2 separate regions of the Homo sapiens genome follow, and region 1 is linked to region 2. Evidence: fine-mapped expression QTL. A gene starts in region 2. The other region holds a variant in brackets. All regions are shown on one strand. Distances are between the middles of the regions. Region 1 overlaps STK10 (serine/threonine kinase 10). Region 2 holds the start of STK10 (serine/threonine kinase 10).

Region 1 (8,327 bases), 130 kb after region 2:
CCTAAAGGAAGCAAAATAACTGAAATATGACAATGGTTTGTCAGATTGACGATATTGTCTGTTGGACTAGTATTTCATGGGGGGAGAGGGATTAGGGAAAAATGTCTAAAAGAACTTCTGTAGGGACTGTAATTTTTTAAAAAGGTTGAGAAACACTTCCCTGCAGGAAACTGAGGTGCTGTTACCAGAAGAGGGGGGTGGATACCAAGCTGCTGAAAACAGCACCTGCCCACTCTGGGGGAGTTGGAAGCTGAAACCAGCGGCAGGCAGGAGTAGGCCAGTGTGGAGCACCTGCTCAGAGGGGCTTGGTGGGGAGCCGCGTAGGGTGCTGGCCGCTGCAAAGCTGAGCCTCTTCTTTGGTTTCTCTGGCCCGGGGGTTCTGCGTTGAAGATTATACTGTAGGAAGCATGGAGAGGACCCTGACCCAGCTACTCTCTGCTGTCTCTGCTGCAGGTGAAGAACGAGGTGGAGAAGCTCCCCCGACAGCAGCGGAAGGAAAGCATGAAGCAGAAGATGGAGGAGCACACGCAGAAAAAGCAGCTTCTTGTGAGTCCCTGGCCTCAGCTGGGGAGCGCAGGGGCTGGTGCGAGACCTGGAATGGTGACCAGGCCCCCTCTCTGCCTTTGCCCAATCCCTGCCCCTCAAATACCCCGTTCTGAATACCTAAATCTGGCCTCATCCTTCATGGCCCCATTATCCCCTCCTCCATGCAGCCTTCCTCGATTGCCCTGCCTCCATCTGGAAGTAAGCTCTTCCATCTCTGGATACCCCAACACTTTACATTGACCACCTCCCAAACCCTTAGCACCTCCTACCTTGTTTTAGGGTTATTTATTTGTAAGTCACATCTCCTTGACCAACCCAGTATATTCCCCTGCCCACTTGGCATCTTTTAAGTCTGAAGGACATCAAACTTGTGATGTCCCAGACCTGGTCCTGTTATGCTCTGAGGGGGTGCCATTTTCCTTCCTTTCTGGCCCATCATTCCTGACGCCTCCTTTCCCTCCAGTCCTTCGTCACCTCCAGAAGCATGGTATGTATATTTCTTATCTCCTGTCTCTGGATCTATGAACTCGTCACCATCTCCATGATCCCCCAGCCACTGTCCAGTGGCCTCCCAGCGAGGCTTCCTGTAGCTGTTTTTCCCCTGCAGTTTCTTCTCTCCTGCCTGCGTGTGATCAATGTGAATTCCAAGTCTGATAATAGCACCCTTCCCCCCACAGCCCTGTGCCTTAAAACCCTTCAGTGGCTCCCACATTGTCCCTAAGATAAGCGCCGCCTCTTTGCTGTGCCCTGGCCGGCCTCCCCAGCCTTCTTTTCATCCTTTGCCGGAATGCTCCTATTTTCCCCCACGAGGGGGTCTTTGTGTGTTCTGCTTCCTCAGCCCCCAAAGCAAAGAATTTTTGAGTCCATATTTAGAAATGCTTTGTATATTACCTGCTTCAGCATTCATAGCTTACTATGGTAGGAGCTGTTCATTTTCCCATTCGCAGAAGAGGAAACAAAGGCTGAGAGAGGTAACATTGCTGAGTTCACATTCAGGGAGGGGGTCGAGGCCTCAAGCTTGTGTTCTCTCCGGGACACCCTATGACCTGTCTGTCCCATTACAGCACGATTAGGAAGAGAACGCAGGACTGGTGAGGGCGGGGCACACAGGCCCTCATCCACGCAGAGGGACAGCAGATTGGCCTGGAGGAGGCAGTTGCATGGAGAGCTTTGAAGATGTACACATCCTTTGGCTTGGATTTTCTGCTTCTAGAAATCCTGAGGGAATCTGAAAATCCTGAAGGAGTTATCACAGAGGTTCACAAATACTTAGCTACCAGAATATGAAGTAGCGCTATTTAAAATAGATAAAACCTAGAGACACCCTGTTGTTTATTGGATAAATAACATCCATAGCATGAAATATTTTCAGCCATTCAAACACATGTGATAGAAGATCACATTATTTATTTATCTGAGACGGAGTTTCAAAACTGGGAGTTTCATCCCAGTTTTTTTTTTTTCTTTTTTGAGATGGAGTCTCACTCTGTTGCCCAGGCTGGAGTGCGGTGGCACGATCTCAGCTCACTGCAACCTCTGCCTCCTGGGTTCAAGCAATTCTCCTGCCTCAGCCTCCCAAGTAGCTGGGACTACAGGTGCCTGCCATCACGCCTAGCTAATTTTTGTATTTTTAATAGAGTTAGGGTTTCACCATGTTGGCCAGGCTGGTCTCGAACTCCTGACCTCAGGTGATCCGCCTGCCTCAGTCTCCCAACGTGCTGGGATTACAGGCATGAGCCACTGCACCTGGCCAGAAGATCACATTATAACATGGAAAGATTTCTTAAAATAATTTTTTAAAATTGTGGTAAAATAGTCATAACATAAAGTTTACCATCTTTACCATTATTAAGTGTACAGTGTAGTGGCGTTAAGCCTATTCACATTGTGCGGCCATCTCCGCCATCTATCTCCAGAACTCTCTTGTCTTGTAAAACTGAAACTCTGCACCCATCAAACCGTAATTCTCCATTTCTTCTCCTCCAACCCTTGGTAACTTTATTCTGCTTTCCCTATGAATTTGACTACTCTAGGTACCTCATGTAAGTGGAATCATAGAATATTTGTCCTTTTGTGACTGGCTTATTTCACTTAGCGTAATGTCCTCAAGGTTCATCCATGTTGTTGCATGTGTCAGAATTTCCTTCCTTTTTAAGGCTGAATAATATTCCATTGTGTGGATATAACACATGATTTATCCATTTATCTATCGACGGACACGTGGGCTGTTTTCATCCCTTGACTGTTGTGAATAATGCTGCTGTGAACTTGGGTGCACACATATCTCTTTGAGCCCTTTTTAATAATTTTTGTAACACAGCAATAACAATAGCTATAGATACACTTGTATAGACATACCTACCGCAGCTGCCAACTCTGGGGGATAAGATGAGTGGAGAGTTTTACTAATTCCGTGGTTTCTAAATTTTTTTATTTTAATTTTTTTTACCCTTTATTATGGAAAATTAAAAACACAGGAATAGGGAGGCCGAGGCGGGTGGATCACTTGAGGCCAGGAGTTGAAGACCAGCCTGGCCAACATGGTGAAACCCCGTCTCTACTAAAAATACAAAAGTTAGCCAGGTGTGGTGGTGTGCACCTGTAGTCCCAGCTACTCAGGAAGCTGAGATGGGAGAATCACTTGAACCTGGGAGGCTGAGGTTGCAGCGAGCTGAGATCACGCCATTGCACTCCAGCCTGGGTGACAGAGCGAGACTCTCTCTCAAAAAAAAAAAAAGAAAAAAGAAAAGTAACATGGGAATAGGTATAATGAACTACCATATACCTGTCACCTAATCTCAGTAATATCACCTCATGTCCACTCATTCACTCCCTGACCCCAAGGTATTCTTTTTAATCAAATCCCAGACATCATATTATTTTACCTGTCAAACATCACAGAAATAACTACCATACCATAAACACACCTAGCAAATTCAACAATAATTGCTGAACAACGTCATGTTGTCAGTATTCCAGTTTCCAATCACTCCTGTAATCCCAGCACTTTGGGAGGACGAGGCAGGCAGATCACAAGGTCAGGAGTTTGAGACCAGCCTGACCAACATGGTGAAACCCCGTCTCTACTAAAAATACAAAAATTAGTCAGGAGTGGTGGTGCTCACCTATAATCCCAGCTACTCAGGAGGCTGAGGCAGGAGAATCACTTGAACGCGGGAGGCAGAGGTTGCAGTGAGCCGAGATCATGCCACTGCACTCCAGCTCTGGTGACAGACCGAGACTGTTCTTTGATCCAGGATCCAGATGAAGCCCACATGTTGAAATTGGTTGATGCGTCTCTAAGTCTCCCTTAAATTTCTCCTCCACCAATTTCTTTTCTGTTCCTGCATTTTCTTCTCTGATCACGCGGGCTTTTCTCCCATAATAGGAAGAGACATGGAGGTGCCCAAGCCGGCTCTGGATAAAGGCCTGTCCTCCTCTCTCCCCACAGGACCGGGACTTTGTAGCCAAGCAGAAGGAGGACCTGGAGCTGGCCATGAAGAGGCTCACCACCGACAACAGGCGGGAGATCTGTGACAAGGAGCGCGAGTGCCTCATGAAGAAGCAGGAGCTCCTTCGAGGTGGGGGTGTGCAAGTGGCAGCGCTGTCTTGGCCCAGAGTCGCTGTGGACATCCCAGCCCTGGGAAGTGGG[G/T]TGGGCAACAAGAACCTCCCAGGCCTTCTCCATCCCCAAAACTAAACATCATTCTTCATGGGGAAACCTGGGGAAAAGCCCCACTTGAAGTAAGGAACGAGGTAAGGACACCAGTTGTCACCAAGACTATTTGAGATTATTCCAGAAGTCAAGAGAAGAAAAGAAAGAAACAGGCAGAGTATGTTAATAAGTGAGCTGGATTTACGGGAGGTGGAGAGAGCTTGGCGTGGACTGAGCAACCACTCTGCCAGGCCATGTGCCAGTCCATTTTTCTACCTTTATCTCATCAAATCCTCACCTAACACTGTGAGGCAGGGCCTAGGTTATCCCCATTTCTGTAGATGAGGAAACTGAGGCTTGGAGAGTTACTATTCTTTGGCCAAGTATCTTAGTTCATTCAGGCTGCTGTAACAAAATACCACTGACTGGGTGGCTTATCAACAACAGACATTCATTTCCCACACTTCTGGAGGCTGGGAAATCCACAGTCAGGGTGCCAGCACATTTGTGGTCTGGAGAGGACTTACTCTCTGCTTCATAGATGGCACCTTCTCACTGTATCCTCACATAGTGGAAGGGAGACTAGCTCTGGGGTCTCTGGGTTTTTGGGGTTTTGTGGTTTTTTGGGTTTTGGGGATTTTTGTTTATTTATTTATTTATTGAGACAGGGTCTAGCTCTGTAGCCAAGGCTGGAGTGCAGTGGCACAGTCATGGCTCATTGTGACCTCTGCCTCTGAGGCTCAAGCAGTCCTCTGACTTCAGCCTCCCAAGTAGCTGGGACTACAGGCACGTGCTACCACGCTTGGCTAATTTTTGTGTTTTTTGTGTAAATGGGGTCTTCTGTGTTGTCCAGGCTGGTCTCAAAGTCTTGGGCTCAAGTGGTCTGCCTGTCTCAGCCTCCCAAAGTGCTGGGATTAGAGGCATAAGCCAACGTGCCCAGCCTGGGGTCTCTTTTATTAATAAAAAGGCACTAATTCCATTCACGAGGGCTCCACCCTCATGACCTAATCACCTCCCAAAAAGCCCCATCTCCTAATACCCTCACCTCAGGGGTTAAGATTCCAACATACACATTTGGGGAGGGGACACAAACGTTTAGATCATAGCACTGAGGTTGCACAGTTAATGGGTGATAGAGCTGGGCCTTGGATGACAATATCAGGAAGCCGGGCCTACCCTGGTGCTGTTGGGAGTTCAAGGGATTTCTGGGCTGATTGAGGAAAAATAAATGACCACAAGATGGCAGTAGCATACCAGCAGCTTTGCTTGGGGGGCATTTTGACAAGTTGACACGCTGAGGGGGTCCCTTACAGAATGAGGCTTTCTGGAGATGATGGTGCGGGCCACCATCCAGCAGGGGAAGAGGGCAAAGGAACTCTTGGGCAAGAAGGGGACTGAGAGGGGGCTCACATGTCTAGATGATGTCGTCCAGCGTGGGGAGCTCAGACGGGGCGTCTCTGGGTCAGAGAACTGCAAAGGGCAACGGTGGCTTGGGGTCTTTATGGAGCCCTTGGGTCTTCCATCTCTATGGCTGGCAGATGTTAGGTGCAGTTTCATGGGGTATGCAAAGTAGGCAGGCTCCAAATGGCTAAATATCTGCTTGGTTTGAGCTTTTTTTTTTTTTTTTTTTTTTGAGATGGAGAGTCTCGCTGTCTCACTGTGTCATCCAGGCTGGAGTGCAGTGGCACAATCTTAGCTCACTGCAACCTCCACCTCCCAGGTTCAAGCAGTTCTTCTGCCTTAGCCTCCTTCATAGCTGGGATGATTACAGCTTTGCGCCACCATGTCCAGCTAATTTTTTATATTTTTAGGAGAGATGGGATTTCACCATGTTGGCCAGGCCGGTCTTGAACTCCTGACCTTAAGCAATCCACCTGCCTTGGCCTCCCAAAGTGCTGGGATTACAGGTGTGAGCCACTGCGCCATTCTCCTGCCTCAGCCTCCTGAGTAGCTGGGACTACAGGCGCCCGCCACCATGCCCAGCTAATTTTTTTTTTTTTGTATTTTTAGTAGAGACGGGGTCTCACCGTGTTAGCCAGGATGGTCTCAATCTCCTGACCTTGTGATCTGCCTGCGTCGGCCTCCCAAAGTGCTAGGATTACAGGCATGAGCCACCGCGCCTGGCCCTGTTTGAGCTTTTTTATGTAACTATATACATTTTTTTTGTTTTTGTTTTTTGAGACCAAGTCTTACTCTGTCACTCAGGCTGGAGTGCAGTGGCACGATATTGGCTCACTGCAGCCTCTGCCTCCCCTGTTCAAGCAATTCTCATGCCTTAGGCCCCTGAGCAGCTGTGATTACAGGTGCACACCACCACACCCAGCTGATTTTTATATTTTTAGTAGAGACTGGGTTTCGCCATTTTGCCCAGGCTGGTCTCAGGTTTCTAGGCTCAAGCGATCTGCCCACCTCAGCCTCCCAAAATGCTGGGACTACGGTGTGAGCCACTGTGCCTGGCCGTACATATTATGTTTTAAAAATAACAAGAGGATGGGTACAAATTTGAGTTTGGTGCCTGTGGACTTTTGACGGTCCAAGCCTGCTGTGAGGAAGTAAACAACACGAGGCCAATATCCCAGGGCAATTTTTGGCTCATTTATAAAACAGGCCTCATCCAGGCCTTTGATGACCAGTGCAGTTAAGCAAGATAAACCTCTTATTATTTGATGTGGATCAGCAAAACAGGGTTCTTGAGTTTTCAATATTCTGAATAGAGCACAGTTGTTTTGAGAAAAGCCCTCACTTCCTTTTCCTATCCCATGATGTTGGTAAGAACCGTCCTATTTACAGAACTGTGGTTCTGATTTTGGGGTGGAAGCCAGAATCACTATTCTGATATACCAAAAGCAGATACCATTTTGCACGGAACAGGAATGCAGTGAAATAAACAACATTCGCACTGAGCCAAGCATAATCTCCTGTCTCGAAGGGCGTGAGATTCTCCCTTTGACCCCAGGTCCCCACCCGGGTGCTGTGCACAGGGGTGGATTAATAGACCTCCAGTGTTAAGATGCCAGTATCTTCATTGTCTTCATAACGCATGCCTGGGACGTGCAGGAGACAAGGAGGATCTCACCCATTTTTCAAAGGAGGAAATAGTGACAAGAGGCCATTCTGTCTTCTTCATGGGGTCTCCATCTGAGCTCTTCCCAGGTGCCCATCAGGAAGGTAGAGATGCAGTGTGGAAACTTTGCACTTCAAAGTTTCTCCCAAGGACGTCCCCTCCCTCCATGGTATAGCTGTGTCCATCTGGCAGACATGGCAGCTGATGCCTAGAGAACCTCTCCATTCCTAATCCCACCGATGGAGCTGGGTTCCAGCCTATAGCTGCAGTTTCTGTGGCTCCTGACTTTGAATACTTCCTGCTATACCATGCTCCTGGGAGCTCTCATTCCTTAGGCTTAAAGGAAGTTTCTAGGCCTCAGCTCAGATCAGCCAACATGGTCTAATGAGGTAGAACATGTGGCAATTCCTGAGCCCAGCAGGTTGGTTATCATCTCCAGCATGAGGAGGCCAGGCAGAGGTGGGGGGCAGGGGGCCTGTCGAGTCTCTGGTTGTCAGCACCTCACCAGCTCGGTGGCATGTCCTCTGCAGACCGGGAAGCAGCCCTGTGGGAGATGGAAGAGCACCAGCTGCAGGAGAGGCACCAGCTGGTGAAGCAGCAGCTCAAAGACCAGTACTTCCTCCAGCGGCACGAGCTGCTGCGCAAGCATGAGAAGGTGAGGCTGCCGGTGGCACGGGGCTCGGATCTGCTGCCGGGCCGACCTGGGAGAGCCATGAGGCTGTATGTGATGGGGCACCTCTTGGGTGCACACTTTGGATGACAAGTGCCCCCAAGAGGAGCCAGGGCTGGCTGCAGTGAGGCCCCAGGAGGTTCTCCAGGGGCGTCCTGCTTCAGCTCAAGGGGCTAGGAATAGGGGAAACGATGCAGGGAAGCCAATGGCCCAAGTGGCTCCCTCACTGACTGTTACTTGCTGTGTATGTCTCTTTCTTTTCTTTTTTTTCCCTTTCTTCTTTTCTTTCTTTCTTTCTTTCTTTCTTTCTTTCTTTCTTTCTTTCTTTCCTTCTTTCTCTTTCTTTCTTTCTTTCTTTCTTTCTTTCTTTCTTTCTTTCCTTCTTTCTTTCTTTC
Region 2 (8,327 bases):
TTGTGATCCGCCTGCCTCGGCCTCCCAAAGTGCTGAGATTACAGGCGTGAGCCACTGCACCCAGCCCAATTTTTGTATTTTTAGTAGAGATGAGGTTTAACCATGTTGGCCAGGGTGGTCTTGATGCCTGCCCTCAAGTGATCCACCCGCCTTGGCCTCACAAAGTGCTGGGAGTACGGGTATGAGCCACTGTGCCCTGACATTAATTTTTTTTTTCTTTTTTCTTTTTTTTTTTTTTGAGACAGGATCTCACTCTGTCTCCTAGGCTGGAGTGCAGTGGTATGGTCATACCTCACTGCAGCCTTGAATCCCAGGCTCAAGCTATCCTCCCACCTCCACCTCCTCATAGCTGGGACTATGCCCATGTGCTACCACGTTGTATTTTTTGTAGAGATAGGATCTTGCTACATTGCCAAGGCTGGTCTTGAACTCCTGGCCTCAAGCTATCCTCCCACCACAGCCTTCCAAAGTGTTGGGATTACAGGTGTGAGCCATGGTGCCCAGCCCCTCCTCTGTCTTAATTTTCTACTCCCTACTCACTCCCAAATAAACCACTTACACTCAAATCCTTGCCTCAGGGTCAGTCTCTAAGGGAATCCAACCTAAGAATACTATAAAATGCTTTTTCTGTGACTATTAAGACTATGTGATTTTTCTCCTTTACTCTGCCAATGCAGTGCTATTACAGTAGATTTTCTGATGTAGAACCATTCTTTTATTCCTGGATAAACCTTTTGTGGTTACGATATTTTTATTCACCTCTGGTTTGATCTTGCTAGCATTTGTATTTTCCCTGTCTTTTTAAGAACTGAAATTAGGCCGGGCGTGATGGCTCACACATGTAATCCCAGTACTTTGGGAGGCTGAGGCGGGCGGATCACGAGGTCAAGAGATTGAGACCATCCTGGCCAACATGGTGAAACCTCATCTCCACTAAAAATACAAAAATTAGCCGGGCGTGGTGGCACGTTCCTGTAGTCCCAGCTACTTGGGAGGCTGAAGCGGGAGAATCGCTTGAATCTGGGAGGTGGAGGTTGCAGTGAGGTGAGATCACACCATTGCACTCCAGCCTGGCGACACAGCAAGACTCTCTCTGTCAAAAAAAAAAAAAAAAAAAAATGAAATGAAATTAGTCTACAATTTTCTTTCTCTCTCTCTCTTTCCTCTCCTTCCCTTCCTTTTTAAGACAGGGTCTCACTGGAGACCAGGCTGGTGCAGCGGTGAGATCACTGTTCACTGCAGCCTCGGCCTCCTGGGCTCAAGGAATCCTCCTGCCTCAACCTCCTGAGTAGCTGGGACCACTGGTGTGCACCACCACGCCTGGCTAATTTTTTGACTTTTTGTAGAAACAGGGTCTCACTTTATAGCTCTGGCTGGTATGGAACTCCTGGGCTCAAGTGATCCTCCCACCTCAGCCTCCCAAAGTGCTGGAATTACAGGTGTAAGCCACTGTGCCTGGCTTACAATTTTCTTTTACTGTCCTTATCTAGTAATAGTAAAACTCATCTTATAAAATAAATTGGCAGATTTCCTTCATTTTCTATCTTTTAAAATAATTTATATAAAGAAAGAAATTATTTGTAAAACCACACAGACTGATGTCTTTCACCAAGAACAAGCTTTTGATTCTTGATTTTTGTGGTTGTTGTTTTTTGGGTTTTTGTTTGTTTGTTTTTGTTTAGAGACAGAGTCTCACTGTGTTGCCCAGGCTCGAGTGCAGTGGTGTGATCTCGGCTCACTGCAACCTCCGTCTCCTAGGTTGAAGGGATTCTTGTGCCTGAGTCTCATGAGTAGTTGGGACCACAGGCACGCACCACCACACCCGACTAATTTTTGTATTTTTAGTAGAGACAGAGTTTCACCATGTTGCCCAGGCTGGTCTCGAACTCCTGACCTCAGGTGATTCACCCGCCTCAGCCTCCCAACGTGCTGGGATTACAGGCATGAGCCACTGTGCCCGGCCTGATTCTTGATTTGATTTCTTTATTGGTTACTAGTTTATTTAGGTTTTTATTTCTTATTGAAATTATCTTTTACCTATCATTTATATTTTCTTCTCAATAATTACCCATTTTATGTAAATTAAAACATTTATTCACATAAATTTGTCTAAAATATCACTTTATGATTATCAAAATTTCTACAGTATCTAATCTGATGTTCTCTTTTCATTTTTTATTTCTTCCAGTGAATATTTCTTTCTTGCACCAATTTTTTTTTTTTCTTTTCTTTTTTTTTTTGAGACGGAGTCTTGCTCTGTTGCTCAGGCTAGATGGAGTGCAATGGTACGATCTCGGCTCACTGCAACCTCCATCTTCTGGGTTCAAGTGATTCTTCTGCCTCAGCCTCCCAAGTAGCTTGGGTTACAGGCGTGCACCACCCCGCCCGGCTAAGTTTTGTATTTTTCGTAGAGCTGGGGTTTTGCCATGTTGGCCAGGCTGGTCTTGAACTCCTAACCTCAGGTGATCCACCCAGCTTGGCCTCCCAAAATGCTGGGATTACAGGTGTGAGCCACCGTGCCCGACCCTTTTTTTCTTTTTCTTTGACTAGTCTTGTCTATTAGTTATTTCAAAGAAGTAGCTTTGATTCTATTGAACCTCAATGTATTTCTTACAATGCTATTGAGGTATAATTTACACATAAAATTCATCCATTTACAAAAATGAAAGTTTAAAATTCAATTATTTTTGGCAAATTTACCAAATTATGAAATTGTCACCATTGTGCAGTTTTAGGACATTTTCATCACCCCAATTAGACTGTTTATTGTTCATGTACAGTTAATTCCCATTTCACACCCAGCTCCAGGCAACCATTAATCTACTTTCTGTCTGTATGGATTTGCCTTTTCCAGACATTTCATATAAATGGAAATTTATAGAACACAGGGCCTTTTGTGTCTGGCTTCTTTGACTTAGTGTTATTGAATGAATGAACCTCTCCGTTTTTCTTTCCCTTCCTTCCTCCCTCCCTCCCTTCCTTCCTTCCCTCCCTCCCTCCCTCTTTCTCTCTCCTTCTCTTCCTTTCCTTTTTCTTTCTCTCTTTCTTCCTTTCCTTTCCCTTTCTCTTTCTTTCTTTCTCTCTTTCTCTCTTTCCTTTCTCTCTTTCTTCCTTTCCTTTCCCTTTCTCTTTCTTTCTTTCTCTCTTTCTCTCTTTCCTTTCTCTCTCTCTTTCTCTCGCTTGCTTGCTTTTCTGGAGCTCTCAGAGCTGGTCAGAGCCCTCCAGGCCTACAGCTTTCGTGGAGTCAGAGCCTTCATCTCCTAGTATGGAAGCAACCCTCTTGGTCTCCCCACCCGCTTCGTACAGTTGGCCAAATGGTCTGAAACAAATGAAAGACCTGCCTTTCAGCATGTTTTGGGAGGTTCAGACAGCGCCTGACTCAATGAGAACGGTCAGCGACGAGCGGCGTTTCCTTCTTTTAAAGACCCTCTACAATTCCAGGCACTCCTGCAGCTGTGGAAACATTCCGAACGGCTTAGCAACCAGGACACCCTCTGCGCCGACCACTACCAGCATCGCAGGCTTCTTGAGCTGGCTTTCCCAGTGGAAAACCATGCTTGGTGTTTGCACACTGTTCAAAGGATGTTTTCGAACAAAGCACCGAGGAAGGGGCGAAAACACCTCAACACAGCCGTTCTCTGGGGTTGGAGCTATTGAACTGTGACATTTGCGAAGACTCAACTTGTTTATGACACGGTCCAAATAATAACCCTTGCAGACTGCCCGCCCCCCCCCCCCACCCCCAGCACTCTCCTTAGATTCAGGTAAAAGCATGTTATAACCGTCTATAGGACAAACAGGCAACAGTAGCAGTGAAGTGACTCAAGTAGCCAGGATCGAGAATGAAGGTGCTCAAAGAAGACTTTAGTTTGATCTGTATGTAGTGCGCTCATCTTTTTTGAAACTAGGAAATTAAAAATTAGAATAAAGTTTTTATTTAATATGCAAATACATCCGCAAACCCATCAGGAAACATAAGAGAAATCAGTGCCAAAGGAGCTCTTTCTCCCAGCCCTCTAATCCTGGCAGGTTTGTGGATCGTGGACGGGGAGCCCCTGGAAAGGACCGCGCCGGGAAGCCGGGCCCTGCAGGGACTGGCCGCGGCTGCACCGGCGTTGCCCGTCGCACACTAGGAGGCAGCACCGCGCCGAGGAACCCGCAGCAGACGGGCAGCCAGCGTGTGTGCCTGGGGCGAGTGCCCTCGCCTGCCGGCGTCCCCATCGGAAAAGTGGGGGCGAGGGCAGCCTAGCGGAATAGCTGCGGGAGGATTAAATGAACGAGTGCAGGTTCACCTTCTGGGCGCTGACAACGATCCGTGGGCTCTCGCGAAATGCCAAGTCGCCGTCCCGCTTGCTCCCATAAAAGTTTTGGGAGCCACGCGGCGCGGCGGGCGGGCTCCTGAGTCCATGAGCGGTCCCACCGAGCGGTCCCCGAAGCTTCCCCAAAGCCCAGCCCGCGGCTCGCGGAGCGTGGTGTGGGGGGACTACAGTTTCCAGAGTGCCCTGCGGCGACGGGCGGAGCCGGGGAGCGCCCGCAGCCAATTAGGGGGTCCCGGGGCTCTGCCGGGGAGCGGCGGGTGGAGCCGGGCCGGTGGGCGGGCGCGGGGACGGTCCCCTGGAACGGGTCCGAGGCTCTCGCAGGCAGGGCTGGGCCGGGCAGGAGCTGCGAGGCCGGCACAAGGGAGGCGGCCCTGGGGACCTGACAGGGCGGGGGCGGGGGCGGGCACGCCGCCGCCTGCGCGGTTCCGGGTGCTCCCGGCGCGGCGCTGCCCAGGGCACACTTGACCGAGGTCGGGCTGCGGGGAAAGGCGGGTCTGGGGAGAACCCCGAGAGACGCGGCGTCCTCCAACTCCTCCTCCTTCTCCTCGCGGCCGCCGAAGCCACAGCCCGAGCCCGAGCCCGAGCCCGAGCCGGCGCCACCGCGCCCCCGGCCATGGCTTTTGCCAATTTCCGCCGCATCCTGCGCCTGTCTACCTTCGAGAAGAGAAAGTCCCGCGAATATGAGCACGTCCGCCGCGACCTGGACCCCAACGAGGTGTGGGAGATCGTGGGCGAGCTGGGCGACGGCGCCTTCGGCAAGGTTTACAAGGTGAGGGCGCTGAGGTGGGTGGCCGGACGCGCGTCGAGGGGCTCCGGAAGGAAGGGATGCCTGAGCCGGACCCGGCCAGCCTGGCTCCGGCTCCGAGGGCTGCCCGGCGCTGAATTCGGGGTCCCTGGCCCTCATCCCGATGACTCTTGTTTTTTGGGGGGAACATCACTCGGCCCGGCCGAGTCCCTGCGCTCTGGGCGCCCCCTCCGGGCACGGTTGCCGCCCCCACCCTAGCCCTGTTTCGGAGCACTTCCTGTGTGTCCTGCACTGCGCTCGGCGCCGCACGGGGAGACAAAGGGGCGTTGACAGGACCTCAGCATCCGAGAGGGCCACTCGAGGGACCTTCCAGGGACGTTCCGTAAAACGGCGATACGGGCACACTTTTTTTTTTAAGAGAGACCACAGATGCTGTGGGAATATCGAGGCGATGTGGACCGAGAAACTCGGCTGCGCTTGGACGGGTTGGGAGCTAGGGACACATCTGAAGATGAGCCAGAGACAGGGAAGTGGGGTGGGCGAGGGGTGGCCCATGGACTGAGAGGTGGGGCTTGGAAAGGTGGGTTGGGGCTGGTCAGAGGGGGAGGTCAGGATCTGGTGAATGCTGAGCCTGGGGGAACAGATTTGATTCCGTCGGTCTGAGTCACAGCTGGGGAGTCTCCCAGCCTGCAGTCACCTCTCCCCTAGAGGAAGACGCGGCAGAGAGCTTTTGTGGAGTGGGTGGGGCAGAGCTGATTGAGTCTAGAGAAGTGTGGCAGCAGGACGTTGGTTTCTGCTCCTGGGAGCTAATTCTGAGGTGGTGAGTTGTTTTAGGGAGCCAACACCTACAGCTTGACTCCCCCCTTTCCCCTAAGAAAATTTTTACTGGGAGACGCCCACTTGTTAAATTGGTGTATACCTCCAGGAGAGCACCTCTCTTCTAAGCCACTATCCTCCTCCTTGGGGCTCCTGTAGCTTGTAGGGCACTCTGACCCTAGGATTGCCGTTCTATGAGGCTGGACCACAGAGAAGGCTTCTCCAGGCCTTCTCCTCTGACTTGGAAGTGGTCTATCGCCTAGTTACCGAAGTAGTTCCTAGATGACCGGTGTTATAATAGCATCATTTGGGAGCTTGTCAGAAGTGAACAATCTCATGCCCAGCCCCGACCTGCTGAATTAGAGTCTACGTTTTAATAAGATCCCAGGTGATTCCTAAGCAAATAGGTTTGAGAAGTACTGCCCTAGAGGCTTGGAGTGGTGGCGTTTTTTCTTTTTTCTTTTCTTTTTTTTGAGACAGGGTTTCCCTCTGTTGCTCAGTCTGGAGTGCAGTGGCCCGATCTCGGCTCACTGCAACCTCTGCCTCCTGGGCTCAAGCAATTCTCCTGCCTCAGCCTTCGGAGTAGCTAGGTCTACAGGTGCACACCACAGCCCGGCTAATTTTTGTATTTTTTGTAGACTTGGGGTTTCGCCACGTAGCCCAGGCTTGTCATGAACTCCTGAGCTCATGAAATCAGCTCGTTTCAGCCTCCCAAAGTGTTGGGATTACAGCGGTGAGCCACCCTGCCTGACCTGGAGCGGTGGCAATTTTGAGACCAACCAGGCCCACTCAGTGTCTTTTTTTATTTTTATTTTTTGTGAGACGGAGTCTCACTCTATTGCCCAAGCTGGAGTGCGGTGGTTTGATCTCGGCCCTCACTGCAACCTCCACTTCCTGGGTTCAAGCAATTCTCCTACCTCAGCCTCCCAAGTAGCTGGGATTGCAGGCACACACCACCATGCCTGGCTAATTTTTGTTTTTTTAGTAGAGACGGGGTTTCACCATGTTGTCTAAGCTGGTCTCGAACTCCTGACCTCAGTTGATCCACCCACCTCGGCCTCCCAAAGTGTTGGGATTACAGGCGTGAGCCACTGTGCCTGGCCTGGTGCCTGTTTTGTTTCCTTGCCACCTCCCCTCTGAGCCCACACTTCCTGTTATGGGGTAGGGAGAGGTCTTGTGATCCGAGAGGCAGTGCTTTTGGACTGCCCCGACTTGCTGTCCTCCTTTGCCTGAGGGCCTTGCCCATATTTGAGGGCAGCCAGCTCACCCTGTCCTCAGCACGTCTTTTCTTTACTCTCCTCAGAGCTGCATCTTCTTCCTGGTGGCACCAGAGAACGATCCTCAGCCTTGCAACTGTCTCTGGACACTGCCAGTGTCCTTGACTGCCTTAGACAGAGCCTGCTCCTGCAGCTGTGCTCTGACTACTGTGAGGGCAGCTGGACCCCTGTGGTCAGCTCACCACAGGACCCACTTTCTCCAGAAGGTTCAGTTGGTGTTTTTAGCGTATGCTAAACATATGGGTTTTTTGGGCCGGGCGTGGTGGCTCACGCCTGTAATCCTAGCACTTTGGGAGGCTGAAGCAGGCAGATCATGAGGTCAGGAAATTCAGACCATACTGGCCAACATGGTGAAACCCTGTCTCTACTAAAAATACAGAAATTAGCCGGGCATGGTGATGCATGCCCGTAATCCCAGCGTCTCAGGAGGCTGAGGCAAGAGAAACGTTTGAACCAGGGAGGTGGAGGGTGCAGTGAGCTGAGATAGCGCCACTGCACTCCAGCCTGGCGACAGAGCGAGACTCTGTCTCAAAAACAAAACAAAACAAAACAAACATATGGGCTTTTTTTTTTCTCCGTTAGGGGCTTTCAATTGCATTCTTGTCCCCTTCCCCGCAGTGTGTCCTGGCTTCACAGGGTTCATCTTCCTTTAAACTTAAACGCAGAACTTTGCTTTCATGCTGGTAAGATTTCCCCTTGTCATTTTCAGTTGTGTTTCCTCCTGCTTTAGTCCCTTAAGACTCCCCTGCTACTCTGAAAGTTTCATACAAAGGAACTCATCCGATCCACAATCGATACTGTCTCCTCTTGGTTCTCCAAAGCACGTGGAAAGTCAGTTTTTAAAAAAGTGACTCCAGGGCCAGGTGCTGTGGCTCACGCCTGTAATCCTAGCACTTCAGGAGGCCGAGGCGGGTGGATCACTTGAGGTTAGGAGTTTGAGACCAGCTGGGGCAACATGGTGAAACCCCACCTCTACTAAAAATAAAAAAATAAAAAAATTAGCCGGGTGTGGTGGCGCGTGCCCTATAATCCCAGCTACTCGGGAGGCTGAGGCAGGAGAATTGCTTGAACCCGTGAGGCGGAGGTTGCTGTGGGCTGAGATCATGCCGCTGCACTCGAGTCTGGGGGACAGAGGGAGACTCTGTCTCAAAAACAACAACAATAAAAACA

The links. PIP is the estimated chance that this variant, and not a neighbour inherited with it, causes the effect.
Region 1: its variant is fine-mapped to the expression of STK10 in whole blood (TOPMed, PIP above 0.99).

Annotation. Positions count from the first base shown.
Region 1 is chr5:172,056,939-172,065,265 of GRCh38, reverse strand. STK10 (serine/threonine kinase 10) reads left to right here. Exons shown (of 19, transcript NM_005990.4): 13 at 454-546; 14 at 3,998-4,127; 15 at 7,793-7,917. Among named protein-coding and RNA genes, the nearest start is that of FBXW11, 54 kb to the right of the region's middle. The variant G/T (reference allele first, on the strand shown) is at 4,199.
Region 2 is chr5:172,184,648-172,192,974 of GRCh38, reverse strand. It overlaps STK10 (serine/threonine kinase 10), which reads left to right and starts at 4,751. Exons shown (of 19, transcript NM_005990.4): 1 at 4,751-5,088. The coding sequence starts at 4,933. RefSeq lists enhancers at 3,991-4,766, 5,819-5,898, 6,559-6,608, 6,879-6,928, 7,969-8,018 and silencers at 4,439-4,798, 5,099-5,148, 5,279-5,358.